2 linked regions of the Homo sapiens genome follow. The protein of the gene in region 1 purifies or fractionates together with the protein of each later gene. This does not show direct contact. Each region holds a gene or a part of one and is shown in the gene's direction. Other genes may lie near its edges. The genes, in order: TSEN2 and GREB1L.

Evidence for each region.
Region 2: the proteins of TSEN2 (region 1) and GREB1L purify together in Homo sapiens (affinity purification with mass spectrometry; 2 studies listed by BioGRID and IntAct, with this or other methods). This does not show direct contact.

The regions. Positions count from the first base shown.
Region 1 is NC_000003.12:12,487,469-12,504,386, forward strand, and holds part of TSEN2 (tRNA-splicing endonuclease subunit Sen2), read left to right. Parts: intron 1-2,315; 5' UTR 2,316-2,332; coding exon 2,333-2,521; intron 2,522-4,667; coding exon 4,668-4,749; intron 4,750-4,760; exon of another isoform or gene 4,761-6,837; intron 6,838-9,049; coding exon 9,050-9,086; intron 9,087-14,199; coding exon of another isoform or gene 14,200-14,256; intron 14,257-15,793; coding exon 15,794-16,316; intron 16,317-16,918.
Region 2 is NC_000018.10:21,509,467-21,526,384, forward strand, and holds the end of GREB1L (GREB1-like protein), read left to right. Parts: intron 1-4,354; coding exon 4,355-4,520; intron 4,521-5,950; coding exon 5,951-6,178; intron 6,179-7,146; coding exon 7,147-7,288; intron 7,289-8,567; coding exon 8,568-8,768; coding exon of another isoform or gene 8,769-9,161; exon of another isoform or gene 9,162-10,465; intron 10,466-11,221; coding exon 11,222-11,357; intron 11,358-13,191; coding exon 13,192-13,355; 3' UTR 13,356-16,646; downstream 16,647-16,918. UniProt on the Homo sapiens protein: Plays a major role in early metanephros and genital development.

The DNA.
Region 1 (16,918 bases):
AACTTCTTGAAGGTGGCCATTAAATCTTTTTTCATTTTTTTAAAATTCCGAATGTAATGTATATAAGTCAGCTGCTGAGCAGAGGTTATAAAAGTGAAAAATCCCATAAAAGTCCAAACCATTCCTGGAAGTCTTTCAAAAAGTGCCTTACTAGAGACCAACATCCTGCCCCCAAAAAGCAGTGTTTATTTTCAGTTTTAGAATAAATTATTGTCTCTCCAATTGAGTACTAAATGTGATAATTTAGTACTTGGGCTGAGGGATAAGTCAGCAAGCAAGGTAAAGCCTAGTCTAAATATGCTCTTAAGAAAATCTCTTAGGTTTCCTGTGAGCATGCAGTAGACGTGGTTTTGTTATAAACACTATACAGCAAGATGCATGCATAAATATAAAATGTACAAAGTAATGCTCAGTATGTAATTCCTTCAAGGAACCTTATTTAGAAATTAATCTAGCATGTTGCTGCTTAGAACAATGGCAATTCTAGGAAGGTTCCAACTTCCCGATTCTTCTTTTTCATGGTTATCTTTGTAATTGATGTATCATTTCCTCTAACTCCTCTTTAGTCTGTGTTTTTCTGTGTCCTCATATAATTCCTCAGCTTCTTCCTTGAGAAGTTGGATACTGATATCATCACACGTTGGATAAGCCTTTTCTTAATGGTCATGACACTCTTAAAGCCACTCACCTTCCCCTCCCTCAGTTTTGGCCACCTTCTTGACTGTTTCAGGCTTGATGGCATCCCTTGCCAATGGGATGCAAGTACTGAGTGCAGGAGCCACCTAAGTAATTAGTCTTATTTTTTCCCTTGTGAGGATTCGGAGTCATGTAGGTTAAACGTGTGTATGATTTGGCCGCACTGTATCTTCAAGCACCAGGTAAGCTCTCAGTTGAAATCAAGTCTAGACCTAGTACTGGGGGAGCAGCAGATTCAAGTTTCCCATCTCATTCCAGGACAGCTGCTCCTCGAGTGGAATGTCTTGCACCATTTACATTGTTTTCCCATGTATATGGTTACGTTTTCCTAGGTTAAGTGCATCTACTGTATCTCTGTGTCTGCATCACACAATATGTTCACATTTACTTCCCTCCTTTAGACATTAGTGGATAACAGCCAGTTCCGTTAGCTCCAACCTGCTTTCTGTGCTTCCAGCTATGTTATATACTTGTTTTGTCTCCTTGGATCCAATGTATGGCCCCAGAGGGACACGTACTGGCTTTGGCTTTCTGTTCTCCCTCATGGTGCTGGGTGCACAGTGGGTAATTCCGTTACTGCTCAATAACCCTTCACCGTCTGATTTTGAGAAAGAGTCATCAGACAAAAGTAGATAGACCCTGCCTGTGCTTTCAGCAGAATCTAGAGAGAGGGCATGGGCTTGGGAGTTCAACAGACCTGGGTCACCCGATGCCACCACACTCGGGGTCGTCTACAAATCTCTCTAACCTGAATCTGTTTCCTATTTGTAAAATGGTGTTGCTACTGCTCACCCTGTAATACTAATTATAGCTGATACATGAATGGTACACGCTATGTGCCAGGTACTGTTCTAAGCACTTTATGGATCTTAACTGTAAGATAGAGTCGTTCTTATCTTGATTTTGCAGGTGAGGAAACTAAATCACAGAGAGAGTCAGTGACTTTTGCCCAAAATCACACTGCTAGGAAGTGGTAAAGTTGATTCTGATGCTGATAGTCTGGCTTTAGAGTCCCTGCTTGAAGCCAGTAGCATTTGGTAGTATATAATCGACCCTTAAATAACTGCTGCTGTCATTATTATTTATTAATGTACTTTAAAAATTGGGAGCTGATTGACCCAATGTTTAGTGTGTATTGTAAGATCCTCTTGGAAAATGAAGTGCCTGCAAGATTTAATTTGTTGAGGACAGGGTCTCAGTTTTGTCTTTGTCTCCCCAGCACCTATGATTATTAGGAATTCCTGGTAGTAAATGTCTGTTGGGTGAGTGAAATGGAAGCACTCCTGGTAGACAGAAATCCTGTTGTGCTTGCTCTCAGGAGACCTAACATTGCAGCTTTGGGCATGTCACTAGGTCTCAGCGTTGTCAGCTGGAGTAGAAAGATTACCACTCATTTCCTGGGGTTTATTGTGGGGATTAATTGCAGTATTCTAGGTCAATATGATTTACATTGCTCACACAAACTGTTCTTACTGCTTTTAGTTTATTGCTTTATAAATACTCTATTTCTTCCCACAGACCACTAAGTTTTCTGAGCCTAGGTACAGATGTACTCACATTTTGGATCAAGGTAGTTATTGATTGTCTGTTTCTTTCTGTTTGTTGTCTACTCTTTAAAGAATACCTCCTCTGAAAAATGGCAGAAGCAGTTTTCCATGCCCCAAAGAGGAAAAGAAGAGTGTATGAGACTTACGAGTCTCCATTGCCAATCCCTTTTGGTCAGGACCATGGTCCTCTGAAAGAATTCAAGATATTCCGTGCTGAAATGATTAACAACAATGTGATTGTGAGGAATGCGGAGGACATTGAGCAGCTCTATGGGAAAGTAAGTGCAGGCAGCCTTGGTAAGATTACTTTCAGACAACCCTGAGCAAGCAGTCCTTTCCTTCTCCCCATCCCAGCCATACCCCCACACCAACCATGAACAATGTGTATTCTTTCCTTGCGGTTTGGTCCAGTTGTAGGAAAAGTACAATTTGAATTAGTGCCCAAAAGCCATATGTTAGGGTAATAGAATGACAGATGGAGCACCCCTGCCCACAAACCTTTATTTCAGTGATGAAGTAGGTTCAATGGATTGACTATTTTTTTTGTCTTTAGTTGTAAAAGCAATGCATGTTTGTTAAAGGAACAAAAAAAGTAATTTACAGAAATGTAATGGGTAAAAAAGTGAAAATTCCCCACTCACTCCCATCCCGTTCCCAGAGGTAGCCACAGCGTGGCATAGTGTCCCTACTCAGGCACGGATCAGATGGGGCTTTGGCATGGAGCTCCTTATCTGCTGCCTCCTGGTTGGGGACCTCTTCTCAGATGAGGACAAGTTCTAGTTTTTACTGTTTTCCAGCATTGATCAAGTTGAATGAAGACTGGTAGTTCTTTAAAAAAAATTTTCCATAATCTGTTCATTGCTGTGGGCATTTTTAAAAAACAGCTTTATTGAGTTATAATTTACAACTATAAAGTCCTCCCATTGTAAGTATACAATTCAGTGATTGTCATAAATTTATAGAGTTGCACAACTCTCACCACAGTCCAGTTTTAGAACATTCCCATCACCACAGAGTTCCCTTGTGCCCATCACACTTAATCCCTGCTCCCACTCCCGGCCCAAGGCAGCCACGGAATGGCGTCTTGTCTCCATAAATGTGCCTTCTCTAGACACTTGATAGAAGAGTGGGTGGCACTGGCCATGGTGAGGCAGGAGTCTCAGTAGGCCAAGGGCAGCTCACCAGGGAGGCCTTCATTTACAGTATATAACATTAAGCAAGAGGCTTTATAAAGTGCTGTATGCATTATTTATTCTTGGTTTTTGTTGTTGCTGGGTGTTTTTTTTGTTTGTTTTTTGTGACAGAGTCTTACCCTGTCACCCAGACTAGGGTGCAGTGGCATGATCTCAGCTCACTGCAACCTCTACCTCCCAGGTTCAAGTGATTCTACCACCTCAGCCTCCCGAGTAGTTGGGACTACAGGCGCATGCCACCATGCCTGGCTAATTTTTGTATTTTTTGGTAGAGACAGGGTTTCACCATGTTGGCCAGGCTGGTCTTGAACCCCTGACCTCAAGTGATCTGCCCACCTCGGCCTCCCAAAGTGCCGGGATTACAGGTGTGAGCCACCATACCTGGCCTCTTTATTCTGATTGTTAATCTAAATGGAGAAAGGGGTGTTTGTTTTATTCTTTCAATTTTCTGTGTGTTTAAATATTTTGTAATGAAAAGGGGAAAAATACATGTTGTTTTTGGAATCAGCAGGAATGAGAGGAATACTTCAATTCTGGAGTACAAAAGAATCCAAGAGGTTTTTTTGGACCTAGTGGGCAGCATGGCTCCTGCCTTCAGGCACACTGTGTTCCCGAACCATATGTAGAGAAGAAACTCTGCCTCTGCCTGCCCTCGGCTTATCAGACCTAGACTGAAAGCATTAGTTATGGGATAAATGAGGTGTGCTAAAAACTTACTAGTACTCTTGAAGCGATTAGAAAGGTGTTACGCTAAGAACATCCTTAGTCATCATTAGATAATCAGAGGGAAAATGTAAAGACATGAAAAGTGGGGCGAACCTCTTGTTAACTCAGATGGGTACAGTCGGCCCTCCATATCATGGGTTCCACTTCCGTGGATTCACCCAACCTTGGATTGAAGATATTTTGGGAGAAAAATTGCATGTGTACCAAACGGGGACTTTATTTTCTTATATTAAACAATATAACAACTATTTACATAGCATTTGCATTGCATTAGGTATTATAAGTAGCCTAGAGATGACTTAAAGTATATGGGAGGGCCTACGTAGACTATATATAAATACTGCACCATTTTATATCAGGGACTCGACCATCTGCCGATTTTGGTATCCACCAGAGGTCCTGGAACCAGCCCCCTGTGGATACTGAGGGATTACTGTATATTCTACCTCAGCTAAAAAACTGGTAACTAAGCATGAACTAACTTCATTTTCTCTCTTCCTGGAAGGGTTATTTTGGAAAAGGTATTCTTTCAAGAAGCCGTCCAAGCTTCACAATTTCAGATCCTAAACTGGTTGCTAAATGGAAAGGTAAAGTTGTTGTATCATTCAGTTCTTTTGACAAATTAATCATTTTCCTTTGTTTTTGATCTTATATCTCAGGCTATATAGTAAAATTCTAGAGAAGTAACATGTACACTGGCAGTTTTACTGCCAAAGTTAGCTAGAATAATTCTAATCAAAGCAAAAGGGTTATGATTGGGTGACAGTGTGTTTAATTTCTAGAATTATCAAGTGTTAATTGGGCTTTTCTGTTGTTAAGTGTTTGCTTAGCAGAGTACTATGCCTATGGCAGGTACTGGTAGTTAAGTACCTGCTCACCTGTGGCACTATGCAAAATTTTTAAAATTTTGTTTCCAGAATTAGAATTTGTAATAGCCATGACATGTATGTGTGTGGTTCTCCCTTGCTGATTCTCTTTAATTTATAAATGTTTTAGAATATTTATCTAAGGAATTCTCATGGTAATTACTTAAGAACCAATACCAGCATGTTAAAACATAATTAGAAAGGATCTTTTAAAGGTTTTATTGTAAGAAAATATACAGATTAAAACTGCACTGAGATAACATGTCAACAATCAGGCAGAAATCCAAAAGTCTGACAATATACTGCATTGGTGAGGACTTCAGAAACAGACCTTCTCTTGCATTGCTGGTGGGGTGCTTGTGGTACCACCCTCATGGAGGTGAATTTGGCAATGTCTAGCAAAATTACCTATGCATTTACTTTGTTTTCTTTTCCCCCATTCCTCTCTTTCCTCAGTCCCTGGTAACCTTTATATGTTTTCTGTCTATGAATTTACCTATTATAGATATTTCATATATAAATAACAATCATACAATATTTGCCCTTTTGTGTCTGTTGCTTTCACTTAGCATATTTTCGAGGTTTGTCCCTGCCATAGTGTCTATCAGAACTTCATTCCGTTTTATAGTGGAATAATATTCCATTGTTTGGACATAGTGCCTTTAGCTCATCTGCTGATGGACACTTAGATTGTTTCTGTATTTTGGCTTTTCTGAATAATACTGTTGTGAATATTTGCATACACGTATCTGAGTCTATTTTTAGTTGTTTTGGATATATACCCAGGAGTAGAATTAATGGGTCATATGATAATTGTCTGTTTAACATTTTAAGAACTAGCTAAACTATTTTCCACATTGACCGCATCATTGTACATTCCCACCAGCAATGCACCAAAGGTTCCAATTTCTCTACATCCTTGCCAACACTTGTTTAAAAAAATAATAGTCGGCCAGGCGCGGTAGCTCACGCCTGTAATCCCAGCACTTTGGGAGGCCGAGGCGGGCAGATCATGAGGTCAGGAGTTCGAGACTAGCCTGACCAAGATGGTGAAACCCCATCTCTACTAAAAATACAAAAATTAGCCGGGCATGGTGCTGTGCACCTGTAATCCCAGCTACTCAGGAGGCTGAGGCAGGAGAATCACTTGAACCCGAGAGGCAGAGGTTGCAGTGAGCCGAGATTGCACCACTGCACTCCAGCCTGGGCGACAGAGCAAGACTCCGTTTCTAAATAAATAAATAAATAACAGAGCAAGACTCCATTTCTAAATAAATAAATAAAATAAAATAGTCATCCTAATGAGTATTAAATGGTAAAAGTTTTTCATTTTAATGAAGTCCAATTTATCTATTTTTTCTACTATTGCCTGTGCTTTTGGTATCTATTTAAGAAACCGTTGCCAAGTCCAAATCATGCAGATTTCCCTGGTGTTTTCTTTTAAGAGGTTTATAGTTTGAACTCTTAAGTTTAGGTCTTTGGTCCATTTTGTGTTAATTTTCGTATACTGTGTAAAGTAAGGGTCCAGCTTCATTGTTTTGCCTGTGGATATCCAGTTGTCCCAGTATATGCGTTTACTTTTGATCCAGCAATCTCACTTCTAGGAATTTATCTTAACAATACGCTGACAAAAATATGAAAAGAAATAGCACAGGGCTATTCATGCAACACTGTAATATCCAAAGACTGGGAACAACTTACATGTTCATCAGGAGAGGACCTGTGGAATAATCCATATTTATATAATTAATCCATATAATGAAGGACCGTGGAGCTGAGACAGGAATGGGAGATCGCTAGGATATGCTGGTAAGCGAAGACAGCACAGTATAAAGGAAAGTACATGCTGTGCTGTGGTTTATCTAAAAAGATGGAAATATAAAATAGATATTTTATTATATTTTTTGAGACAAGAGTCTCACTCACTCTGTCATCCAGGCTGGAGTACAGTTGTGCAATCTCCGATCTCAGCTCACTGCATCCTCCACTTCCTGGGTTCAAGCGATTCTCCTGCCTCAGCCTCCTGGGTGAGTAGCTGGGATTACAGGTGTATCCCACCATGCCCGGCTAATTTTTGTATTTTTAGTAGAGACAGAGTTTCGCCATGTTGAGCAGGCTGGTCTCAAACTCCTGACCTCAAGTGATCTGCCTGCCTTGGCCTCCCAAAGTGCTGGGATTACAGGCATGAGCCACTACGCCTGACCAATTTTTTTTAAATGGAAGGATAAAGCATAGTTTTTTAAAAATTCCAGTAGGAAGGGATGAAACAGGATGCAGAGAGAGGTGAGACTTTATAGATTTGACTTTGTAACCATATAAATGTATTACATAATTATAAAAAAAGTTTGGCTGGGCATGGTGGCTCACACCTGTAATCCCAGCACTTTGGGAGGCTGAGGCAGGCAGATCACCTGAGGTCAGGAGTTCAAGACCAGCCTGGCCAACATGGCGAAATCCTGTCTCTACCAAAAATACAAAAATGAGCTGGGCATGGTGGCAGGCACTTGTAATCCCAGCTACTTGGGAGGCTGAGGCAGGAGAATCGCTTGAACCCTGGAGGCGGAGGTTGCAGTGAGCCAAAATCGCGCCACTGCATTTCAGCCTGGGTGACATAATGCAACTCCGTCTCCAAAAAAAAAAAAAAAAAAAAAAGTTAAATTTTTACAAGAGATTTTTTTAAACATAGAAATGAAGTAACTGAAGCTTATATCAAGTTGGTTGTATAACCACAGAGTGAGAAATTATTTTGAGTAACTTTTGGTTTTTTTGGAGATAGGGCCTGGAGTGCAGTGGTGCAATCTCAGCTCACTGCAACCTCCACCTCCTGGGCTTATGCCGTCCTCCTACCTCAGCCTCCCGAGTAGCTGGAACTACAGGCACATGCCATCGCAGCTAGCTAATTTTTGTGTTTTTTGTAGAGACAGGGTTTCACCATGTTACCCAGGCTGGTCTTGAACTCCTGAGCTCAGACAATCCACCCGTCTCAGCTTCTGAAAAGTGCTGGGATTACAGGAATGAGCCAGTGAGCCTGGCCATTTGAGTAACTTTATAGTGATTTGATTGTTCAACCTAATCGGATAGACTTTGCATCAGTTACTTCTTGTCACAATAATGCTGCTTAGTAAACCATCCCGAAAGGTATTGGTTTTAAGCAGCAACCATAGTAGTCACTAGGTGTGCAATCTTGGCTGGGTGTGCTCACTTTCCTGTGGGGTTAAAGCTGAACATCATCTCTTCCAAGCATTTAATGCATGCAGACGAGGCTGAGTTTGGGAAAAGAGAAGTAATTAGCCCAAAGGCAGAGTTAGGAAAAGACCAGGACGAAAACCCAGACCACTGGGTGACCTGATAAACATTTCGGTTGGAAAGACTCCTCCCACCTGATGCCCTGCTTATGCCTGGGGTACAGGCAAGTTAACTACAACCAAAACCTAGGGATTCAGAAACAGCAGGAGCCCGCCTGTCAGAACTGCGCCCTCATCAGGCTGGTCTTCAAAATAACTTGAGGTCAAGCCAGTTTGAGATTCTGCACAGGGAGCTAGAGCTGGATCCCTGAACTCCCAAATCCACATCCAAAACCAACACTGCAATCAAGTTCACTTTTCCAGCACTTTTGATATACACATGGAAGGCGCTTTCAGTGAAGAGGGAAGAATGGAGATGAAGTGCATACCTCTAGGGCCTCAGCATTCTCATTTGGAAGTTGGAATGAGCATTCAGCCATGGCAGAGAGGTTTCCTCCTGTGCTGTTGCTGCTTAGCTGGAGCCCTGAGTTGAGAAGAATTCTGAGGTCCCCTCTAAGCCCAGCAAGACCGATGTGATTGATGGGCAGCACCTGCCAAGGGTATGGGTTCAGGGAAGGACGGCATAGAAAGCATATTTTTGCCATTACTGACTGGACAGTAAACTTTCTAGGTGTGTGATTTTGTGAATCTTAAAATTCTCAGTCTTTCCTAGATTTTTAGTGTTTGTTCCCCTTATGGGAAATTTGCCTGAAACTAATAGAACTTCTTTGTTCCAGATATGAAGACAAACATGCCTATCATCACATCAAAGAGGTAAGTCATAATGAACTTTGGCTTCTGTCAAAATGATGGTTTAAGTCAGATGTTTTTAGGTAGTCTTGTCCCATGTAGCAGTCCAGTCCACACCTTTTTTTCTTTCTGTTTTTGGTAGTAGATGTATCCTTGAAAATTATGTTGGAATTTAATGTGGATCAAATCATTTTTGCAATGCCTTACGTGAGTTTATGGTTTGTTTAAATACTGTTTTGCCAGTTGAATTCTTTCCAAATTATGAATAACTATCCTGTAATAGCTATGTTATTAAGTCCTCATATTCTTGGGCCTAGATTTTGAACCAGCCTTCTGCCCGGTGGGCACAGATGGTCCTGTCCCCCTTCCTCCAGCTACACTGTAGGGTCAGAGAAAGAGGCTTTCACAGAGGCCCTTCCTCATTTAATCCTAGACATTCCCGGAACGTTTCTCCCTGACTCCCCAAACACACACATATGGCCTGGCTGATTCCTGCATGTGCTCAATCCTGCTCATGCCTGACCTCTCCTGGGTTTCTTTCCTTACCACCGTCCCCTCCTCTGTCTTGGCTGCTGCTCCTCTGGCCCCCACAGCCCTCTTCGGCGTGCAGCACTTTCCTCATGTGTCATACGTGGGTTTAGACTGTCGGTGCTTGGAGAGCAGAGATCAGGCCCTTCTCCTCTCTGCAGTGCCACACTTTGTGGTCCCTTGGTGAGATTGTTGACTGTCTCCATCCATCCCAGACCTCCTTGTCCCTGTGATACAGTACAGCTCTTCCATGAAACCTTATAAAACTTCTCAGGTCCCCAGTGATTTTGTTCATCTTGCTTCTGGCATATACGTGCAAAATCTGGCAGCTCCTTTTTGGTTACATGCTTGGCAACCCCATAGCCAGCGGGGTGGCAAGGAGTGGTGGCACCAGGGAGATCTCAATGGCTGTTCCAGCTGTAACCTCAGGTTGGGGTCAGGAGTGGGATTCTGGTGTGTGGGAGGGACCTGCTAAGAACCTGTCAGAGCCCTCAGCCTTGGAGGAGCTATAGTGCAGACAGGTTGCCACAGCAGAAACCTAGGGATCAGAAATAGCAGCAGCTCGCCCATCAGAACTGCATCCTGGCTAGGCTGGCCACAACATGACATAAGGTCAAGCCAGCCTGCCAGCGTAGAGGTTCTGCACAGGGAGAGGGCTACCTCCCTGAAGAGCATCTCTTTAGGAGCACTACAGTATCCCAAGAAGTTTCATTGACCCTTGTATTCATTTCCTAGGGCTGCCATAACAAAGTACCACAGACTCAATGGCTTAAAACAACAGAAATTTATTGTCATGGTTTTGGACACCAGAATTCCAAACTCAAGGTGTCAGCAGGGCCACAGTCCCTCGGAAGGCTCTGGGGGAGCATCCTTCCTTGCCTGCCTTCACTGCTGGCTCCTGGCACCCCTTGGCATTCCTTGGCTTGCAGATGCATCACTCTAATCTCTGCCTCTGTGGTCATGTGGCATTCTCCCTTGTGTGTTTCTGTGTGTCTTTGTCCAAATTTTCCTCTTTTTTTTTTTTGCATTAAAAAAATTGATACATAATAGATGTATGTATTTTCGGGGTATGGGTACATGTGATATTTTGCCTCTTTTAAGGACACCAGTCACTATGTCCTTAGATCAAATTGATTCCATCTGCAAAGACCCTGTTTCCAGATAAAGTCATATTCGCAGGTACTGGGGTGCGTAATCTGGGAGGTGTATGTTGTCCTACTATTCCTTAGTCAAGGCCCCGCAGTTACAGAGTTGCACTGAGAAGTGAAAGCGATAAACTATTCACTAATAAGCAGGCCTGGCATGAACTCAATCTGCATTCAGATATATCTCTCTTCCTTCCTCAGCGCTCTTGATATACTTTATTGTGTTATCACCTTAGTTGATTTTTTCCTTCAATTCTCCTCTAGTCTAACTGCCAGATTCTCATTTTTTAATCCCTTTGCCATACTTTGATCACTTTCATAGACTTCATGAATCCTGCATCTTTTTTGCAAGATTTAAATGTTCAATTTGCCGTCAATTTGCATTGAATTTACATTAACATAACAAAGGACAAAGTGACATAAACGACACATAGTGACAGTGCAGGAATGTTGCTTGAAGGGGGTATGCTTGTGGGGATTAATTTTTTATAAGAAATTTTCAGATTACAGCTCATTTCCCCGTGTGAACCTAAGGATGTTTAAAGATGTTACCAGCACAGTTCTATCAGCAAGCTACATACGTCCCCCAACCAAAACCAATACTTGATTTATTATTTGTTCACAACACTTGGAATCACAATCTAAATTTTGCTAAATATAAGAAAAATTGATGCATGTTCATATTTTTAGATTAATTTTTCAACTTAAATACTTGTCATAATAGTTGTTCGTATTTTTTGTAGAGACAGGGTGTCGCTCTTGCCCAGGCTGGTCTTGGGCTCCTGGGCTCAAGTGATCCTCCCACCTCAGCCTCCCAAAGCACCAGGATTACAGGTGTGAGCCACTGCACCTGGCCATAATTGTTTCTTTTCTGATGCCTCTGAAATTCTGATTTTTATTTCAAGTCGATTCACTCAAATTGGCCTTTTTCCAATAATAGTCGTCCTTGGATAAAGTTACGCACCTTCTGCGTAACTCTTTCTGAAGGTAAGTGTCAGGACCCTTCTGTGATGCCTTTGGGGAACTGACACAAGTAGGGGTATGTCCCTGAAGGACCAGCCCTGATGGTCGTGCTGGTTGCCCACCCCGTTGTCCTTTATTCAGCCAGAATTCACTATGTGTCAGGCATTGGGTAGGTGCTGGGGACCCAAGAGCGAGGAAAAGACCTAGTCCCTGTTCTTGAAGGATTTACAGTCTAGTGAGAGAGGAAGAGAAGTGAACAGTTGTGCTGTCCTGTAGTAGTCGGTGTTGTGATAGAGATACCATCACCATTATAGCCAACAGGTGCTGACTGCTCTGGCAGTGCCATTCCCAGTCTCTGAGCTTGCCTGCATTACCTCCTTTCATCTTCTCAAGAAACCTTCGAGGGTAGGTACTAGAGATGTTTCTGTTTCGTAGATGGGGACTCAGGGGAGGCTTCAGTAGCTTGCCCAAGATTACGTGGGCTCAGCGCCAGAGCCTGGGAGACATTGATATGGGTGTGCACACCAGCACTCCCTGAGCACCTTCCAGTGCTAAGTATCGTGCCAGTGATGGGCCTGTGTGTCATCTCAGGTCCTCACATCACTGCCATGAGGTGGGTCCTGTTCTTATCCATCTTCCACAATTGGAAGAACTGAACACAGGGAAGTGAAGCTCCTTGCTCAGGGTCAGTATGTGGACTTAGGCACTGTGGCCCCAGAACCTATGTGCGCTAACCACTCTAAACCACTCTGCTGTGCACTTCCAGTGATAAAGGGGCATTCATCAGTACAACAATAGGGAACGGTGCCCTGTGCAAATGGGAGAGGTGTGTGTTCAAGGGTGCAGAAACATGAGAAGCCTTGGCGTGTTCTGATGGGCACGTCCTGTGTCCTTGCGGTCCTGGATGGTGCTGCTTTCCCCAGTCCTGTCACTGCTTCCAGTCGTGGCTGCTGCCTCATCCTTCTGCCACGCTCCCCCTTAACACTTTCTGCATTTTACTTCTCATTTCTCTTCCTGCAACTGCTCCAGCATCTGGGATTGATGGCAACAGGACTTGGCTTTTTAAGGTGTTGCCAGCCAGCTAGAGGACGCCTTCAGCTCTGACCCATGTGTCGTTGTCTTAGTCATTTGTTTGTGTGGCTCTTTTCATCATATCTGACTTGGAGGCTTTCTTCTACATGCTCTTCGAGCCTCAGTCTCCTTTGACTTTTCATAGCGATCCTCTGAGACCCTGAAAAGGGAACACAGGTATGGCCTGGTTCTGGTATGTGACAGAAGGCACAGAGGTAGAAGTGCTAAGTGGCTTAGCTCAGAGCCACACGGAAGAGCCAACTCCAGGACCTAGACCTCCAGAGGCTGCGTTCATCCCTGCACTGCTGCCTCTGCTCTCAACAGCAAATTAAGACATTTCCATTCATTAACATCTTTTTCAAGATACCATATATTGAGTCTGATTTATTTTTCAAGCCACTCCTAAAAACTCCACAATGATATAGTAGTATTGATTGAACACTTCTTATGGGCTATGCACTTTACGTGTCTTATTTAATTCTTGCTGCAACCCCAGGAGGTAGGTGCAGTTATCCCTGGTTTGTAGATGGTCACTGAGCCTTAGAGAGGTGGGGTCATATAGCTGGTATGAGAACGTGATGGAGCAAGGATTGGAACCCACGTCTGCTTTGACTGCTCTGCTGCAAAGAGCAGAGCAGTGCCCTCTGTGTGCTCACTTCACTCCAGATCTTCTGGTCAAAGGAGGAACTATTGACCCTTTAAATCAGTGGTTCTGTCACGTGTTTTGAGTCACGGAATTTGGCAAAAGTTTTGGGTCCCTTCCCCAGAAAAATATATTGTCACAAAAATTTGTGTTCAAATAAAGGAAATTTATAGACCCTGTAGAGCCAATGCTTATGTTGATATGAAGAGCTAAGATTCTTTTTAGACCCCTCACATGAAAGTTCTTTTAAACGTATGCATAGGTGGCCATGTTCCAGGTGAGAAGACACCCTGCAGGTTGTGGCACAGCTATGTTCTTTTTGCTGGTTTTAAAAGTAATACATAACAAGATCCCTTTGAGGTGGTAGTACTCATCTCCACATTTTATAGGTGGGAAAATTGAAGCACGGAGAAGTTAAGTAATTTGCATTGCCACACAGTTATAAGTAACAGGGCTGGACACAAAATGTGCCATACCAAAGTCACGGTGCCGTACTGACTCTCAGGTATTAGGGTAGCCTTACCAGGTGTTAATCTTTAGGATACAATTCCCAGTATATAGGGAGGCATCCCTGATGTTCATCCTCATGTGGGGTGAACAGGGTATAGACAGCTTTGGGATTCTTAGGAATCAGGGTTAAGCAACCACTAGTCTCTTTTTAGGTACAGCAGAAGCCAATGTCCTTGTTGAACTGTGTGAGATATAGCAGTTTGTAAACTATGACATATTCAGTCTTTTTTTTTTTCTTTTGGAACATTTCACAAATTTGCGTGTCATCTTTGCACAGGGGCCATTCTAAGTATATGTGCTGCCGCATCGAGCACTGTTCAGTCTTCTTAACCAGGTAAAAGAAGGTGAAAAGTAAAGTTACATCTGCCTTCTCACAAGCCACGTGTTGTCTTGGATGCCTTTCAGACTAATCACTGAAGGTCGAGGCAAAAAGCACTTGAGTTTCACAATGTCTTTGACCTTCTGATCAGATTTCCAACATCTGGTAGTTCTCACATCACATGAACACATCCCAACAGCCTAGGCATGAATGCTTTGCCCTATTGTTTTGCCTATAATTTTTTGTAACTTGGGAAGTGTTTTGTAACTTGGGTGTTAGCTTCAAGTTTTAGAAACTTAACAAGAATTTTATCAATAAAATCTACTCTGCAAAGTATTGTGAGGAAAAGGGCCATTTCTGTTAGAATATGTGGATGAATCTACATAAGCCAAATCATTTCTCTCCTTATCCTGTGAAAGGGTTAGTAGGCACTGTGATGAATATTTATTGAAATTCTCATTTTGCTTTCCAATGCTAAACAAGTTATTTGTATTATGAATGGCATATCTATCTGAAAACATTATGAGATCCAAAATTGAAAATAATACAAAACAAGCTGAGAGCGGTGGCTTACACCTGTAATCCCAGCACTTTGGGAGGCCAAGGCGGTCGGATCTCTTGAGGTCAGGAGTTCAAGACCAGCCTGGCCAAAAATTTGTGTTCAAAAATACAAAAAATTAGCTGGGGGTGGTGACGCAAGCCTGTCATCCTAGCTACTCGGGAGGCTGAGGCAGAAGAATCGCTTGAACCCGGGAGGCAGAGGTTACAGTGAGCCGAAATCGTGCCACTGCACTCCAGCCTGGGTGACAGAGCAAGACTCCATCTCAAAAAATAACAACAATAATACAAAAAAAAAATCTTGATAAAGGATGGCCATTTTCTTGTTTATTTACCTAAATCACTTAATCTATCAGTTTTAAATTAGATAAATTTTCATAGTTTGTTAAACTGGGGGTTAGTTTTTTTTGTTTTTTTTTTTGTTTTTTTTTTTTCAAATAAAGCAAATAAAATGAAACTATATTGTAAAAGCAAAGAAACAAGAAGTAACATATGCTTGTTGCAGAACACTTAGAAAATGCAGAGGCCACACGCGGTGGCTCACACCTGTAATCCCAGCACTTTGGGAGGCCAAGGCGGGCGGATCGTGAGGTCAGGAGATCGAGACCATCCTGGCCAATATAGTGAAACCCCATCTCTACTAAAAATACAAAAATTAGCCAGGTGTGTTAGCAGATGCCTATAGTCCCAGCTACTTGGAGGCTGAGGCACAAGAATTGCTTGAACCCAGGAGGTGGAGGTTGCAGTGAACCAAGATCACACCACTGCACTCCAGCCTGGCAACAGAGCAAGACTCCATCTCAAAAAAATAAAAAAAGAAAGAAAAGAAAATGCAGAAAAGTATAAAGAAGAAAAATATTTATCTATAATGCACCATTCAATAATACTGCTGTAAACATTTTGGTGTGTCACCTTCCAGTCTGTTTTATGTGCTTTGTTGTTTTTTCAATTTTGAAATTCGAGTGCTGTTTCTAACAGTATTTCTGTCTTGCAGGTATCAGCATAGTGTTGAGTGGGCAGCAGAGCTGATGCGTAGACAGGGGCAGGATGAGAGTACAGTGCGCAGAATCCTCAAGGATTACACGAAACCGCTTGAGCATCCTCCTGTGAAAAGGAATGAAGAGGCTCAAGTGCATGACAAGCTTAACTCTGGAATGGTTTCCAACATGGAAGGCACAGCAGGGGGAGAGAGACCTTCTGTGGTAAACGGGGACTCTGGAAAGTCAGGTGGTGTGGGTGATCCCCGTGAGCCATTAGGCTGCCTGCAGGAGGGCTCTGGCTGCCACCCAACAACAGAGAGCTTTGAGAAAAGCGTGCGAGAGGATGCCTCACCTCTGCCCCATGTCTGTTGCTGCAAACAAGATGCTCTCATCCTCCAGCGTGGCCTTCATCATGAAGACGGCAGCCAGCACATCGGCCTCCTGCATCCTGGGGACAGAGGGCCTGACCATGAGTACGTGCTGGTCGAGGAAGCGGAGTGTGCCATGAGCGAGAGGGAGGCTGCCCCAAATGAGGAAGTAAGTAGAAGAAAATAAATCGCTTCCTCCAAAGCCATCCGTTCCTGGAGATGTTGGCTAATAGGGATGTCTTTTGCCTGCAGCTGGTAGCTGGCCTGTTGTAGGGTCCAAGGGAAGCAGCAGGCTTTGGGCCACAGCAGCTGTGAGGGCCATTTCAACTAAAACCCCAGAGTTGGTGAATAACTTTTAAAAAAATTTATAAAATTAAGACAAGGCCAGTGGTATTCTCTCCTTTATTTGGGAGAAAACAAAATGCGGTGATAATTACACCTGATCTTGAGTACAGCTGAGCAAGAAGGGCTCACGTGTGGAAGTCAGCCATCTTGAGAAAAGCCTAGGGAGGCCAGGTAAGAGCTACGTCATGAAGGGACTTGCTGTCAGAGTTACCCTAGAGCTGTCTGGAATTGCTAAAAATTAGAAACAATCTAATTGCTAAATGGGATATGAGATACCCATTCAAAGAAATATCATGTAGACTTAGAATGAGGTTTATGAAGTCATATTAAGAACATAGGAGCCAGGTGCAGTGGCTCACACCTGTAATCCCAGCACTTTGGGAGGACGAGGCAGGAGGATCACTTGAGGCCAGGAGCTCAAGACCA
Region 2 (16,918 bases), on another chromosome or scaffold:
CCACTGTCTCCCAACCTAGCCTCTGCCTCTCCCTTCCTTCTTAGGTCTCTCCCATTTCTTGTTCCTTTCTATGCCTTTTCATGTCCTTCAACTTCAAACAGCCTTAATATGGGCTTAAAATATTTTCAAAAATGGTTTTGTTTTGAATATAATTGTTTATCACTTTATATCAAGTGAATTAAGGCTTCTGAATATTTCTGTTCCTTCAGCCTCCCCAAAACCACCTATACTCATACTAACTGAAGCCTTTTTCTATATGAATATGACCTTCTTCTGTGCCTGCCTGATCCTTAGGAGAAAGTTTTCTCATCCTAGATCTGACCAAACTATTTAGTACTAGTTTTGCCATTTTTGCAATAATTTGGGGAGAATGAAGCCAACACACATATGCAAATGAAATATACAAATTATTATTTTTATTTTTGGTAAAAATCACATAACATAAAATTTACTGCCATGGCCGGGTGCGGTAGCTTACGCCTGTAATCCCAGCACTTTGGGAGGCTGAGGTGGGTGGATCATCTGAGGTCAGGAGTTTTGAGACCAGCCTGGCCAACATGGTGAAACCCCATCTCTACTAAAAATACAAAAAAAAAAATTAGCTGGGTGTGGTGGTGTGCGCCTGTAATACCAGCTACTCAGGAGTCTGAGGCAGGAGAATCACTTGAACCCGGGAGCTGGTGGCGGCAGTGAGCCAAGATCATGCCACTGCACACCAGCCTGCGTGACAACAGTGAAACTGTCTCCAAAAAAAAAAAAAAAAAGTACTGCTTTAATACTTCTAAAGTGTTAAAGTTCAGAAGTGTTAAGTACATTCACATTGTTTTAAGACTGATTTCCAGAACTCTTTTCACCTTGTGAAACAGAAACTCTATACCCATTAAACAACTCCCCATTCCCTCCCTCCCCTCAGCGTCTGGCAGCCACCATTCTACTTTCTCTAAGTGCCTCATATCAGTGGAATGATACAGTATTTGTCCTTTAGTGACTGACTGGCTTATCTCACTTAGCATGTCCTCAAGGTTCATCCATGTTGTAGCATGTGTTAGAATTCCTTTCCTTCTTAAAGGCTGAATAATATTCCATTTTATGTATCTACTACATTTTGTTTATCCATTCATCCGTCAGTGGACACTTGGGCTGCTCCCACCTTATGGCTGTTGTGCATCATGCTTTTATGAACACAGGTATACAAATATCTCAGACCCTTATTTCAACTCTTCTGGGTATGTATCTAGAAGCGAGATTGCTAGATCATGTGGCAATTCTATTTTTAACTTTCTGAAGAATCACCATACTGTTTTCCATAGTGGCTTGCACCATTTTACCTTCCCACCAACAGTGCACAGGGATTCTAATTTCTTCACATCCTCACCAACACTTTTTTTTTTTGAGGTGTTTTGCATTGTGATTTTGTTTTGCATTCCCCTAATGATTAGTAATATTGAACATCTTTTTGTGTGCTTGTTAGCCATCTGTATATCTTCTTTGAAGACTTGTCTCCAAAGTCCTTTGTTGAAAAATCAACTGAATTATTTTGTTGTTGTTGAGTTGTAGCAGTTTTTAAAAAATATATTCTGGGTATTAATGCCTTATCAGATACACTCTTGGTAAAGATTTTCTCCCGGCCGGGTACAGTGGCTCACACCTGTAATCCCAGCACTCTGGGAGGCCGAGGCGGGCAGATCACCTGAAATAGGAAGTTCAAGATCAGCCTGACCAACCCCGTCTCTACTAAAAATACAAAATTAGCCTGGCATGGTGGCACTTGCCTGTAATTCCAGCTACTCAAGAGGCTGAGGCAGGAGAATCACTTGAACCGGGGAGGTGGAGGTTGCGGTAAGCTGAGATCGTACCGCTGCACTCCAGCCTGGGCAACAAGAGTGAAACTCCGTCTCAAAAAAAAAAAAATTTTTCTCCCATTCCATGGATTGCCTTTTACTCTATTATTTGATGAAGTCCAGTTTGTCTATTTTTTCTTAGCTTTTGTTTTTGATATCATATGTAAGAGATCACTGCCAAATTCAATGTCACAAGGCCTTCCCCTATGTTTTCTCCTAAATGATTTATAGTTTTAGCTTTTATGTCTAGGTCTTTGATCCATTTTGAGTTAATTTTTGTGTAGGGTCTAAGGTAAGGGTCCAACTTCATTCTTTTGCATGTGACTATCAGGTTTTCCCAGCACCATTTTTCTTTAAGACAGGGTCTTGCTCTGTCACCCAAGCTAGAGTGTGCAGTGGTACGACCATAGCTCACTGTAGCCTCCAAGTTCTGAGCTCAAGCAATCCTCCCACCTCAGCCTCCTGAGTGGCTAGGACTATAGGCGTATGCCACCATGCCTAGCTAATTTTTAAATTTTTTGTAGAGACATGGGTCTGTGTTGCTCAGGCTGCTCTCAAACTGCTGGCCTCAAGTGATCCTCCTACCTCAGTCTCCCAAAAATGCTGAGATTACAGGTGTGAGACATCGTGCCCAGCCCCCAACTGTGTTTGTTGACAAGACCATCTGTTACCCACTGAATGGCTTTGGCACCCTTGTCAAAAATCATTTGACCATATATGAGAGGGTTTATTTCTGGGCTTTCTATAGGCCCAGATCAAAACTACCACACTGTTTTCATTACTATAGCTTTGTAGTAAGTTCTGAAATCAGGAAGTGTGAGATCTCTAACTTTGCCTCTCTTTCAAGATTGTTTTGGCTATTTGGGGTCCCCTGAGATACTGGATGAATCGCAGGATAGATTTTTCTATTTCTGCAAAGTCTTTGGGATTTTGATAGGGACTGCATTAAGGCTATGGATCACTTTGGGTAGCACTGATATCTAATATCAAGTCTTCCAATCCATAAACACAGGATGTCTTTCCATTTATTGGTGTCTTCCTTAATTTCCTTCATCAATGCTTTGTACTTTTCACTGTACAAGTCTTTTGCCTCCTTAGTTGATTCCTAAGTCTTTCTTTTTGATGCTATTGTAAATGGAACTCTTGATTTCCTTTAGATTGTTCACAGTTGAGGTATAGAAATGCAACTGATTTTGGTGTTGATTTTGCATCTGCATCTTTGCTGGATTCACATATTCATTCTAAAGGGGATTTTTGGTGGAATTTTTAGTTTTCTATGTATATGTTGCCTGAGAACAGAGATAATTTTACTTCCTTCCTCTTTGGTTGCCTTTTATTTATTTATTTTTTCCTTAATTTCTCTGGCCGTGACTTCCAGTATTATGTTAAATAGAAATGGTAAAAGTGGCATCCTTGTCTTGTTCATGATCTCAGTTTTGGAAAAGCTTTCAGTCTTTCACCATTGACTATGATGATGTTAGCTGTGGGCTTTTCATATATGGCCTTTATTATGTTGAGAATGCAAACTATTACACACACGTTCTTGGAAGGTAGATTTTCCTAAATCCCAGTTTTACCCTTGATCTGTTCACACTGCTTCTGGTTCTTCCATAGATTTAATAGCTTTTCTTTCATTTATCACCTACGTTTTGTTTCATTTTACGATGGCCCACTCATAAAATTTGGCTGATTACTGACTATCATCTTGATAATCACTAACATTCACCGAGTACTTAGAGGGTACTAGGCGCTATCCTGAGCATCATACAGCAACCCTATGAGATCGGCATTATTATTGTCTTCTTAGAGGTGGGGAAGCCAAGGCACAATGGGTTTAATTTGTTCAGGGTCACATGGCTAGAAAGTGGTGGAATTAGGATTCAAAATCAGACAGTTTGGCTCCTGTCTCTTCTCTTAATCTCTATACCATATTGCCTCTTGCAAAAGGCAGATCTAGGGAAAGGGTGCCAGTTTCCAGAGTTGTCTTCTTCAAAGAAGCTGCCGTCAGTTTCCTTGAAGTATCTAAAGCAGGGGACATATCAGTGGAATTGGCATACCCACTCACTGCAGCCCAGTTAACTCCCTAGTACAGGACATGTGAGTGGCTGCTTCCAAGTCTGAGAGAGCCTCTTGTCATGCTTCAAGGAAGTAAACAGTAACAGCATTTCCTAGATGTGGATTCCTTTGTCCTGTGAGGGAAACTGGATTCTTGCAATACTTTCAAAGTGTGGTTCATACCATTTGCATCCTCAAAGATATCTCTGGTTTCTGGCCCTTACACCATACCGACTCAAATGCAGCTCTAGTAATGGACTCTTAAGAATCTACATTTAAAAGTGATTCCCAGTAACACTGGTTTGAGAGCCACTGCTCTGAACATTTGGTTGGCTCCCACCTGCATGGTTCCCATGTGAACAGGCATTCTGTGGAGAGAATATAGCTGCCTGTGGGGCTTCAGCCAAGCCTGAGTGAAGGATGTGTGGATATGCAGATGTGGTTATGTTGCCTTCCAGGTGCTGCCAGGTTCCTCATCAAGGAGCTATCATATCACAACCTAGAATTGGAGAGAAACCGCCTGGAGGAGCTAGGCATTAAACGCCAGTGTGTCTGGCCTTTCATCGTCATGATGGATGACTCATGTGTCCTATGGAACATTCACAGTGTTCAGGAGCCATCCAGGTAGACTTCCAAGCTGGGGGCGTATGACACAATGCTATAGACAGGACAATACATTTCTTGACTACAGTTACATACGGAAGTAAGAAAGAGAGAGACAGCTTTCCAGAGCAAAACAGTCAACCATGAGACCACCCTCACTAGAACATTTTGTGGTGACTTAGGAATCTTTTATTTAGACATTCAGTAGCCCATTAAATTCCTGGACCATTCTGGGATCACAGCGTTGGTTAGCTATTAAAGTCTACTGCGGCCAGGCACAGTGGCTCATGCCTGTAATTCCAGCACTTTGAGAGGCCAAGGCGGGCTGATCATTTAAGGCCAGGAGTTCTAGACCAGCCTGGCCAACATGGTGAAATCCTGTCTGCTAAAAATACAAAAATTAGCTGAGCGTGGTGGCGCATGCCTGCAGTCCCAGCTACTTGAGAGGCTGAGGCAAGAGAATCACTTGAACCCAAGAGGCAGATGTTGCAGTGAGCTGAGATTGTGCCACTGCACTCCAACCTGGGTGACAGAGCGAGACTCTGTCTCAAAAAAACAAAAATAAAGTCTGTTGAGACACTATGATTTATGGAGAAAGACTGCTGACATCTCAAATCAGGAGACCTGGTTTTAGCCCCAACTCTGTTTTTTGTTTATAATTTTTTGTAGAGATGTTGCCCAGTCTGGTGTTGAACTCCTGGGCTCAAGCAGTCCTCCTGCCTTGGCCTCCCAAAGTGTTGGGATTACCAAGTGTGAGCCACCACACGCAGTCATGCTTCTTAACTGTCTGTATGAAAAAGGAAAGTCATCTCACCTCTCCATATCTCAAGTCCATCACCTGTAAAATTACGCCTGGGCCAAAATCAGTGGTTCTCTTCCTGGGGTAGTGCCCCCTCACATTGCTAGGGGGTGCTGGTCGGGGCATCTGTGAGGACCAGAGAATGCCAAACATTTTAAGAAGTCCGACACAATAAACCCCCAAAATTCAATAGCACTCCCATTGCAACACTGTGCCAGCTGACCTTTAAGCCCCTCCCAGCTCAAACACTGTGATTTTGTGTCCTTGTTCCTATTTTGGATTTGAAGCCAGTGAAATTTTCAAATATTCCTTATTATACACAATTACCAGAACTGGGAAGGATACCTCTATGCTTCCAACCTCCGGCTACCTCTTCTTTGGCAACTCTTTATTCACTGTTCACTCTGACACAGGCCGGATTTCTTTCTTTGCCCGAAAGTGATAAGCCCCACCCCAAAAGGCAGTTTCTTTATAATAGTGACAGGCAGTGTGAAAACTGGGCTTGACATTCTTCTCCATTTGCTAATACGAAGTAAATCAGTTAATTTTATCCTTGAGAGTATTACTGGTATATAGTAGTGTGTAGACACTTCACAAATGATCCTCTCTTCTGTAATATTTATCAACATCTTATATAAACTATATTTCATAGCCAGCCCATGGAAGTAGGAGTTTCCAGTAAGAATGTGTCCTTGAAGACTGTCTTGCAGCACATTGAAGCCACACCAAAAATTGTCCACTATGCAATCTTGGGCATACAGAAATGGAGCAGCAAGCTGACTTCTCAGAGCCTAAAGGCCCCATTCTCTAGGTGTCACGTGCATGATTTCATTCTCCTCAACACAGACTTGACTCAGAATGTGCAGTATGACTTCAACAGGTAAGTCAGGCCTCATGGATGCAGGTAATCCTGGCATCTACTGATTGCTTCTGCCCAGCTCTAGCCTCTGTAATGCTTTTATTCGTATGTCTTCAGTTGAGAAGCTGACTCTTTATGTGGGCAAGGAGAAAGGGGGATCACAAGCCCCAAAGTGTGCCCCTTTATCAGCAAACTGACCTAGACCTTAACAGGGGTTACAATGTGAAATGCTTAGAGAAAACACTTTAGCCATCTCATTATTCAACAAGAACTCAAGACACAAAAACTACTGACTCAAGTCAGTGTGTGGACCCACAAACATCTAAGATTAAGCCTCCTTCACCCTCCAGACTCAGAAGGAAATCACTTTTCCTGAATGTTAGACTAAGCCCTCCTTCACCCTCCAGACTCAGAAGGAAATCAATTTTCCTGAATGTTAGTAGGATTCAGGGAAATCCTACTGTAGGGAAAAGGCAGCAGATGGGGATGAGCAGGGTAGCCATGGCCTTGCCTCCCAAATAAATTATGTCCAGGTTCCTACAAAACCTGAGAGGGCCAAGCAAGAAGGCAGGAACCATAAAGTCCTTATGCCAAACTTACGGTTATAGAATAGCTGCTGCTTTCACTCCTGTTTTAAATTTGACAGAGGCTTCATCCTGCTTGTAGCCAGAAATTTAAAACTGGGAGCACCTCTGCATTCCTGTTTTGCCGGAGTGTATCAAATAGGAATATAGTCCTGTTTTTGCATAGGGATACCTAAAACCTGTGACATAGCTGGGACAAAAATAATCTCACTTTCCCCTTCCTTGAAAGGCTGTAATGCCCAAATCAGAGTTTTTCCAGGTCAGTGTTACGAGGGCCAGCTCCACAAAAGCATGGTTGATTATTTTAGGCTCCTAATATCTTGCCACACATTTATTTCTCTGTGTATAGTTATCATGGTTGAGATATGCCAGCGGAAGAAAACTATTGTTGTGGTTACAATTTAGGTATTTCTGTGAAGATGCTGACTTTAATCTGAGAACAAACAGTAGTGGCCTGCTCATCTGCCGCTTTAATAACTTCAGTCTCATGAAGAAACATGTTCAGGTTGGAGGGCAAAGGGACTTTATCATTAAACCAAAGATCATGGTGAGTACCGCAAGCTTGATTCAAGTGCTGAAAATAAGCACAATGATAATGACTATCTTTGTTATTAGATGTTGGCATTAAGCACTTTCTATTTTATTAGAAAAGTGAAATAACACAAGGGAGTTTTTTTTTTTTTTTTTTGAGACAGTCTGTCCCCTAGGCTGGATGGAGAGCAGTGGCGTGATCACGGCTCACTGCAAGCTCTGCCTCCTGGGTTCAAGCGATTCTTGTACCTCAGCCTCCCAAGTAGCTGGGATTAGAGGTCCGTGCCACCACGCTTGGATAATTTTTATATTTTTAGTAGAGATGGGGTTTCACCATGTTGGCCAGGCTGGTCTTGAACTCCTGACCTCAAGTGATCCACCCGCCTTGGCCTCCCAAAGTGCTGGGATTACAGGCATGAGCCACCGCATCCGGCCATTAGGGAGTTCTTAATGTCAAATTTTCAATCTCATTTCTGTTACTGAGACTCATCTAGAGCCAAAACATTTGTTTTGACAATCCAACAAAATTACTTTAGATGTCAGCCTTAAATCTAAGTTTCTTTGGATTTAAGCCTTAACACATCCTTCAAGGCTTTAGTTTCAAGATGGCAAACTTTACATTTTTACCTTCTTTTTTTGAGACAGAGTCTCGCTCTGTTGCCCAGGCTGGACTGCAGTGGCATGATCCCAGCTCGCTGCAACCTCTGCCTCCCGGGTTCAAGCGATTCTCCTGCCTCAGCCACCACGCACCACCACATTTTTACATTCTTTATGTAATACATGAGAGAAATATAAATCAAGATGCCAGTCTGATCCTTTGCTAGAAGTTTCTTAAAAGATAGTAATAAAGATCAAAACCTGTATTACTACCCTTTTCTAAGAAATCTACTGAATGTAGTAATTCACAGCATGGGGGCTACCAGTGGAGCTTAGAAACCTCTTTGCCATTTTTTTGGTGGGGTTGTGGGGTAGAGTTAGGATGAGATAGGATTTAACCCACACACACTGTAAAAGGCTTCCGATTGGATCTCACAGTGTACCTGTTAAATGTGGTAACTTTCAGAGAAGCCTGCTTTCTTCTGCCCTCGCTGTGTGTAACTTACATTAAATCCTATTTTACTATTCCCAAGAGAAAAAAATTTTCAGGACCCTTTACTAACATACATTTGAACCTAGCACCCCTCACTGTGCTACTGCTATTATTTGGCGACTGTTAGGATACACTTCAGTGTTTCCTCACCTGTTTAATCCAGTGACAGACAAGTTTCCCATGATCATCTCGCCTCTGATTTCAGGTGTCAGAGAGCTTAGCACCCATCTTGCCCCTTCAATACATCTGTGCTCCCGACAGTGAACACACACTACTGGCAGCCCCTGCACAGTTTCTCCTGGAGAAATTCCTTCAGCACGCCTCATATAAACTCTTCCCCAAAGCCATCCATAACTTCAGGAGTCCTGTGCTGGCCATTGACTGCTACCTTAACATTGGACCAGAGGTAAAAAGGGTGTGGGGGATACTGTGCTTACCTACATCCATCCATTTCTTTCTCATTTTAGCTGTTTACAAAAAAGGAGCCTGTGACATGAAATATCAATCAAGATGCCAGTCTGGTCCTTTGCCAGAACTTTTATTAAAGATAGTAATACAGATCAAAACTTGTATTTCTACCCTTTTGCATACTCACTTATGCAAAGGTTCACACAACATGCAATGGCAGTTTGCCCTCCCCATGCCTATTTTATCTCCACAAATGAGCCAGAGAATATACAACTCAGCTGTCAGCTCCTCTAAGAAGCCTACCTCGGTGACTTTGGGCAGCAGTTGCTTGTTCCCACTTCTCTTAACATTCATCAGATTATACTGTAATTATGTGGGTTTTTCTTCATAAAAGTGTGAGTTCTTCAAAGACATACAATGTCTTAGGCATTGTTTTAGACATACGTAAGAGGAGCTCAGTGATTACCGAACAAATAAATGTGTATCACCTGAAGCCTTTAGAGGTGGCATTTCTCCACTTCCCACCCCTTGGACTTCTTTCTAAAATTTTTCACATTTTAGTTTTTTTTAAACTGCCACTTGCACCTCCAGGCTCCTACTACTAAGCTGTCCCTTTAGAAATGATTACTGTACTACATCCTCCTTGTAAAAAATGTTTTAAAATCATAAGAAAGTAAAGTCACCTGCCAGAAGAATATTTTGGTGTACTACATTTCCTTCCAGGGCTTTTTCTTTGTATGTATTGAAAAAAACACACATATCCATACACGTACTCTTTTAACGCTAAAGTCACTGTATTCAGTTTTGGAAACTAATTTTTAAAATTTCACAGTGTAAACATTTTACATTCCCATTTTTATGTTTCAGTAATCTACACTGTAGATTGGGTAATGAATTATAGAATTTTAGAAGTAGAAGGAACCTTAAAAACCATCAGATATAAAGGCCAGGCATAGAAGCTCGTGCCTATAACCCAGCATTTTGGGAGGCTGAGGTGGGAGGATCACTTGAGGCCAGGAGTTCGAGACCAGCCTGGACAACATGGTAACACCCTGTCACTACAAAAAATAAAAATAATTAGCCAGGTGTGATGGCGCACGCCTGTAGTCCCAGCTATTCAAAAGGCTGAGGTGGGAAGATCACGTGACCCCAGGAGTTCAAGGTTGCAGTGATCTGATTTGTGCCACTGCATTACAGCCTAAGTGACAGAGACCCCATCTCAAAAAAAACAAAACAAACCCACACCCACGAGATCTAATAACATCTTTTACAGTATTTATGTAAGTACTGTAAAAGATGTATGTAATTTACATGTCTGACCCAGATATTCCAATTCCCCTATCCTAGAGTCCAGGGCTCTACGTATTAACACAATCTCAATACTTAACAACAGCTAACATTTACTGAATACTAAGTTATTTAATTCAGAAAACATCCTATGAAACAAGTACTATTGTTATCTCTACAGATGAGGAAACTGAGGTATAGTGAAATGAAGGAGACTGTTCATTGTTCCATGGCTACTAAATGGAGGAACCAGTATTTGAACCCAAGCAGACTGGCTCATGCATTTAGCCATTCCACTGTTTTAACTCCCAACTATCTTACTTACTTCTCCGTAATTTTTGCAGTTATCATCTGTTCACAGAAGCCAGATAGAACCAAAAATTTAAATTCATGCACTGTCTTTTTTTTTTTTTTGAGATGGAGTTTCACTCTTGTCACCCTGGCTGGAGTGCAATGGTGCAATCTCGGCTCAGTGCAACCTCGGCTCAGTGCAACCTCCACCTCCAGGGTTCAAGCGATTCTCCTGCCTCCGTCTCCTGAGTAGCTGGGATTACAGGTGCACACCATCACGCCTGGCTAATTTTTTTTGTATTTTTTACTAGAGATGGAATTTTGCCACGTTGGCCAGACTGCTCTCCAACTCCTGACCTCAGATGATCCATCCACCTCGGCCTCTCAAAGGGCTGGGATTACAGGCGTGAGCCACCGCACCCAGCCCATGCACTGTCTTAAGCTTCTATCCAATTGAAAATTTAAGTATATCTAAATGGAAAGCTGATCAAAAATATTTTTTATTCTCACCAATAAGGCAATCCAAACATTTAATCTTTCCTAAGTATGCTTTTTTGTGGAAGGTAGTTTTTTAAATTTGATAAAGACTCTTAAATGGAAGGGCTTGTTTCTTACTACTAATTTGTCTCCTAATAGTCCTTTATTATGAAACATAAATAAGAGAAGCTTTAAACAGGTTAACACTTGGCACGCTACATAAAGGAGGCTGCAAAGCTTAACTAACCAAGCCATTTAAGTTAATATTGGAAAAAACTCATCTCCTTTACCTTATCCTGAAATAGAGAAAAAGGAAGGTACTGAGTCATTCTGCTGAACTGCAGATATTTTGCTTGCTCTTGAAATGCCCATGCTATTTTTGCTTGATGATTTCAGGTGGCCATATGCTATATCAGCTCCAGACCCCACTCCAGCAATGTCAACTGTGAAGGGGTGTTTTTCAGTGGACTCCTTTTGTACCTCTGTGACTCTTTTGTAGGTGCTGATCTTAAGAAATTTAAATTTCTAAAAGGTAAGTCAAATTTAGTATCTTGCTTGTAATTGCTATTGGTTCCCACTGAGCAAAATACAGAAGATAAAGATATTTTTAAAAAGCACTTGAGGCCAGGCGCAGTGGCTCAACGCCTGTAATCTCAGCACTTTGGGAGGCCGAGGCGGGTGGATCACGAGGTCAGGAGATCGAGACCATCCTGGCTAGCATGGTGAAACCGTCTCTACTAAAAAATACAACAAAAATTAGCCAGGCATGGTGGTGTGCACCTGTAGTCCCAGCTACTGGGGAGGCTGAGGCAGGAGAATGGCGTGAACCTGGGAGGCGGAGCTTGTAGTGAGCTGAGATCACGCCACTGCACTCCAGCCTGGGCAACAGAGCAAGACTCCGTCTCAAAAAAAAAGTAAATAAATAAATACAAAATCAGCCGGGCGTGGTGGCTCCTGTAATCCCAGCTACTCGGGAGGCTGAGGCGGGAGAATCGCTTAAACCCGGAAGGCAGAGGTTGCAGTGAGCCAAGATCACGCCATTGCACTCCAGCCTGGGCAACAACAGTGAAACTCCATCTCAAAAAAAAAAAAAAGAGAGACTGGCCTAAGAACAAACTAAGATTAAACATCACAGATAATCCTTATAAAATGACCTTTGAGATCAGTGAAGAAAGTGAGGTTCAGAACGCTGTGCAGCATGAGAACAGGGAGAGGGGTTGTGCGGGGACTGTGCATTCATTCATTCACTTATTTATTTATTTATTTATTTAGAGACTTATTGGGGATGGGGGAGTGGTAGATTTTGCCTCCCAGGAGACAGAGACACTTCTGATTGTCGCACTGGAGGCTGCTGCTTGCTGGCATATAGTGGGCAGAAGCCAAGACTGCAGGATGTTTAGATTCCAAACATCCTACAAGACACAGAACAAGGCTAGGTGTGATGGCTCACGCCTGTAATCCCAGCACTTTGGGAGGCCAAGGTGGGTGGATTGGCTGAGCTCAGGAGTTTGAGACCAGCCTGGGCAACACTGTGAAACTCCGTCTCTACTAAAATACAAAAAATTAGCTGGGAGTGGTGGCGTGCACCTGTAGTCCCAGCCACCTGGGAGGCTGAGACAGGAGAATTGCTTGAACCCAGGAGGCGGAGGTTGCAGTGAGCCAAGATTGCACTACTGCACTCCAGCCTGGGCAACAGAGGAAGACTCCGTCTCCAAAAAAAAAAAAGGTAAGACACAGAATAGCCCCCACAACAAAGAATTATCCAAGTCCAATAGTGCTGAGGTTCAGAAACCCTAATCTAGGAGGAACACATGAGAAACATAACATTAGTTATCACAGGGAAGAGGGAATGTGGTTGGAAGATTACTTACTTTATACTCTTAAAAATTACTGAATTTGGGCTGGGCGCAGTGGCTCACACCTGTAATCCCAGCACCTTGGAAGGCCGAGGCAGGTGGATCACGAGGTCAGGAGATCGAGACCATCCTGGCCAACATGATGAAACCCCATCTCTACTAAAATACAAAAAAAAATTAGCTGGGCCTGGTGGCAGACACCTGTAGTCTCAGCTACTTGGGAGGCTAACGCAGGGGAATTGCTTGAACCCAGGAGGCAGAGGTTGCAGTGAACCGAGATCGCACCACTGCACTCCAGCCTGGAGACAGAGCAAGACTCCGTCTCAAAAAAAGAAACAAAAAAAATTACTGAATTTGCAAAACTACTTAATAAAATAAAACAATTCTGATAGATTGCTTATCCATCTGTTGGTTCTCAGATGTGTTAGCTTAGGAAATATAATCAGAGATAAAGTTCTTTATAAATTCAATCCCTGAGCCTAGGACATATTTCTGTCTTTTTTCCTGAAGGTGCTACACTGTGTGTCATCTGCCAAGACAGAAGTTCCTTGCGCCAAACAATTGTCCGCTTAGAGCTAGAAGATGAGTGGCAGTTCCGCCTCCGGGACGAGTTTCAAACTGCTAACAGCAGTGATGACAAGCCTCTCTACTTTCTTACTGGACGTCATGTATGAGCTTTTGAAGAGACCAAAACAGCAAAAAGATGCCTAGGTGGGATGGGACAGAAACAATTTGGGATTTTTCTTTTTCCTTTAAAGTACAATCACTGTGGAGCAAAGTGCAACATATTTGTCTAAATTCTCCAAAGAACTCCCCAAATCTGATCCAGGTCTTTGGGGACATCACTTTCCTTCAGTTCCAATTACAGGACCCTTAAATTCAGGTAAACTCTATCCTAGGCAGTTATGCAATTACTTAAGATACGGTCTGCCCATGGGATCCTGAGGAGGATATACTTTGGAGAGTGAATATGGAGTTTGCATTATTTTTTTCTATTACTATGTTAGGGGGAAACTGACTGTCAGGATTAACTAGCCTGAATGTGTTACATGAGACTCATGCCATTGGTGTGGAATCAATTGAAGATTAACGTTTGAGGCCTGAACCCTCAGTTTCTCTTCAGATCTGTACTTTGGTACAGTATTACTCAGGGGTTTGAAATGATAGAATGTAGACGATATTTGTATTTAAAAAAAGAAGTAGCTTTGTCTTTCTCTGTGCAGTGTTAGTTTAAGATTTATAATCTTCTATGTATTGAAACTTTTGGCAAAATTTCCACAGGAGTTAGAAGTTTACTATTTAAACTGAACAAACAAATCAGTAAATGCAGAGCAGGCATTGTGTGCATTTATGCATCTTCTCCTAGCCTAATTCCTTTGCTTTACCCACTCTTTAAATGTGTTTCCAGTCTTTAAGAATATCTTATCTATGAGACTATGGAACAGTGATTAATCTTTTGCAAGAACTTAAGTCAGTTAAGAAGCTTTCAGCAGGTAACCTGCACCCACCGTTTGGTTGGAATTAAGCAGTTGGCACCAGCAAACCTAAATGTCAGGCTGAGGTTCTGTTGCAGAGTGAAACTAGTTTGTTTCCTTTCAGGGACTCAAGCAAAGCTTCCTTTAAAAGATGCACTAAATATTACCACCTTACACTGACAACGCCACAGAAATTGCCGAATTGGGAAATTGAGCCATAGAAAGAGAAATGTTTTTTTACTTAATCTTACCAGTGACTCTTGTGAGGAGTAAGGAAGACTCCATTAAGAGTCTTTTTGATTCATTAAAATCAGCAGGGGGTGTTTGTCCAGTATCGGCAATGGGAGGCATATGTTTCTACAGATTTCTCAAATATTTTAATCAAAAACATTATTTTTAGAAAGTGTTCTAGATAAAACTAAGTCTTAGAAGTTTACTCTTAAATTACTCCAGTTCTCATCATTGAACAATCTCTTGAGAGTTTTCTCATTAGCCCATATTTACTACTTTATCCCCACTTAAAATGGCCATTTTTACTTGAATCAATCTTGTTTGTGACCTGAAACTACTGAGGGGCCTACTAAGCCTGCATTTACTTAGAACAAATAGTGTTAATTGACCAGCTTTATTATCTTATGACAACAAGGAGTTTACAAAGCTAGTGAAAAAATGGAATGTATTAGACTAAAAATGGTTTGCAGATCTCTTGGTTTTAATATAGCTACTTATAATGCTTTAACTGTATTTTGAAGTGAACAATTCCTTTTAACCCCATTTTTAATTGTCCTTCAAAGAGGACCTGCCTTATATATGCTTTAAAAAATACTCCTTAATTTTAGTACAGCAGAATTTTTGGTAAAGAGGTATGTTTTGAAGCAATTTGGTTTAAATATGAATGTATTTCACTTGTTCCTGTTTTGTTGAAAGGGCCTAATGCAAATAATACCAAGAAACCCACTGTCTGTGCAATATTCCAATAACATTTACATAGGGCAAATAAAATACTTGAAAGAATTCTGAAACAATTGTACCTGGGGTGGATGGCCTCTCAGGGTTTCTTCTGGCTTTATGACTTCATAGTTTAAAGAACTTTTTTTTTAAGTAGTTACATCAGATGCAGGTACTCCATTAGTTAGGGCTGCACTCTGAAAATTCAAATTATTATTATGAGCTCTTAAATACTATTTAACTCTGGAAGAGATATGCCAGAATAAAGCCAAAAGACCATCACCCCTATAATGGAGAAATTGATCTGCCTATTCTTTTCAAAGCCTATCTTACTAATGTTTGGATCTTTTAAAATCATCTTATCATCAGTATAATTCTTGAGTATGTTAGGTCCTTCTTTAAGGATAAAATTGCACAAGCACAGGACACCATGATTTGTGTGTATATATATATATATCCTAGTGTGTTCAGCTTTAAGCTTTGCAATCCCTTAGGACACTGATGTGGGATGAATGGATTCGCTAGGCCCACACAGTAACTCACCTGTAGACCTGCTGAACCTCAGCATGTATGACAGTTCACACAGGTTAATACTGAATGTAAACGAAAAACTAGAAGACAATTGTTATAATTTTTTTTGGCTGTAATTTATGCAATTGCTTTTTGTGATTTTTAGAAAATGGGGCACCCGTGTTATTACTGTAAAATGTTCTTAACCAAAATTTGGTGAATTTCACTAGTCTACCTCACATTTTGTTAATGATTCAAAATTGTCTTGTGTCTACTGTTATATTTTTGTCCTTTGATTTAATTTGCTTAATGTATTAAAGTTATCTCCCACCCCCTCCAAAAAGTTATTTTTTCTTTATAGTTTTCTGGCATGTTTGTTAAGAAAACAAGCTCCCTGACTCTGGCAATGTCCTAAAAAGGCTGGAAGTCAGTCACATTATAGGTTGGACAACCAAGATTAAAGAGGTGTTGAAAACATACATAGTAGATACCAATCTTTTATTTGACAGATTGCAACTACACTCACTTTGATGTCCTTCTGGAAACAGAACAACTTTGGGTTGCTAAAACTAATACAAGGTGTTTGTTATTGTTAATCTCCAGTTAAAACTTCTCAAACTTTTTGAGAGTGTCTCAAAGTTGCTAGAACTATGTAGTATGAAGATGCTGTTATTGTAGTATGAATTATATCTTCTTAAAAAATTTTACCAACTTTTGAGAATAACAACTTTGTTGTCCCAGAAAAATGGCTTTCAATCTATTAATAAAGTGTAGTAAATTAAAAGAATTTGACATAGATTCCATGAAAACAATCTTCTAGGCCAAAGGACCCTCAGGAAGGGCAATAAATATTTGTAAGTGTAATGACAGACTTTCAGAGGAAAGTAAAGACTACTGGTGTTCCACTATACATTCCAAAGCAGCTGCCTTGAAAAGACTATTAATTAACTGTGAAACTGACTGCTGCAACATCACACTAAACTACTTAGGCCTGAAACAACATCCAGAGAACGAACATTTATCAAGCTTCTCTTTAGACACAGAAACTGGAAATTGGCCCTTAAAGCTTCCTCTGAGTCTAGGAGAATACTACTCTAACACTGAAACCTTGGCTTCACTGAAAACAAAACAACAACAGTAAAAATACTGCTAAAGATGACTTTAGGAATTGCCGCTAAGGCCAAAGAAAAAGTCATTCACATAATAAATTCACTGTGCTCTCAACTATCAAGTGTTGTTGAGTTAAAGCATCTACTTCAGTGACTATGACAATAGATGATGGTATTAAGTTAAAAAAAAAAAAA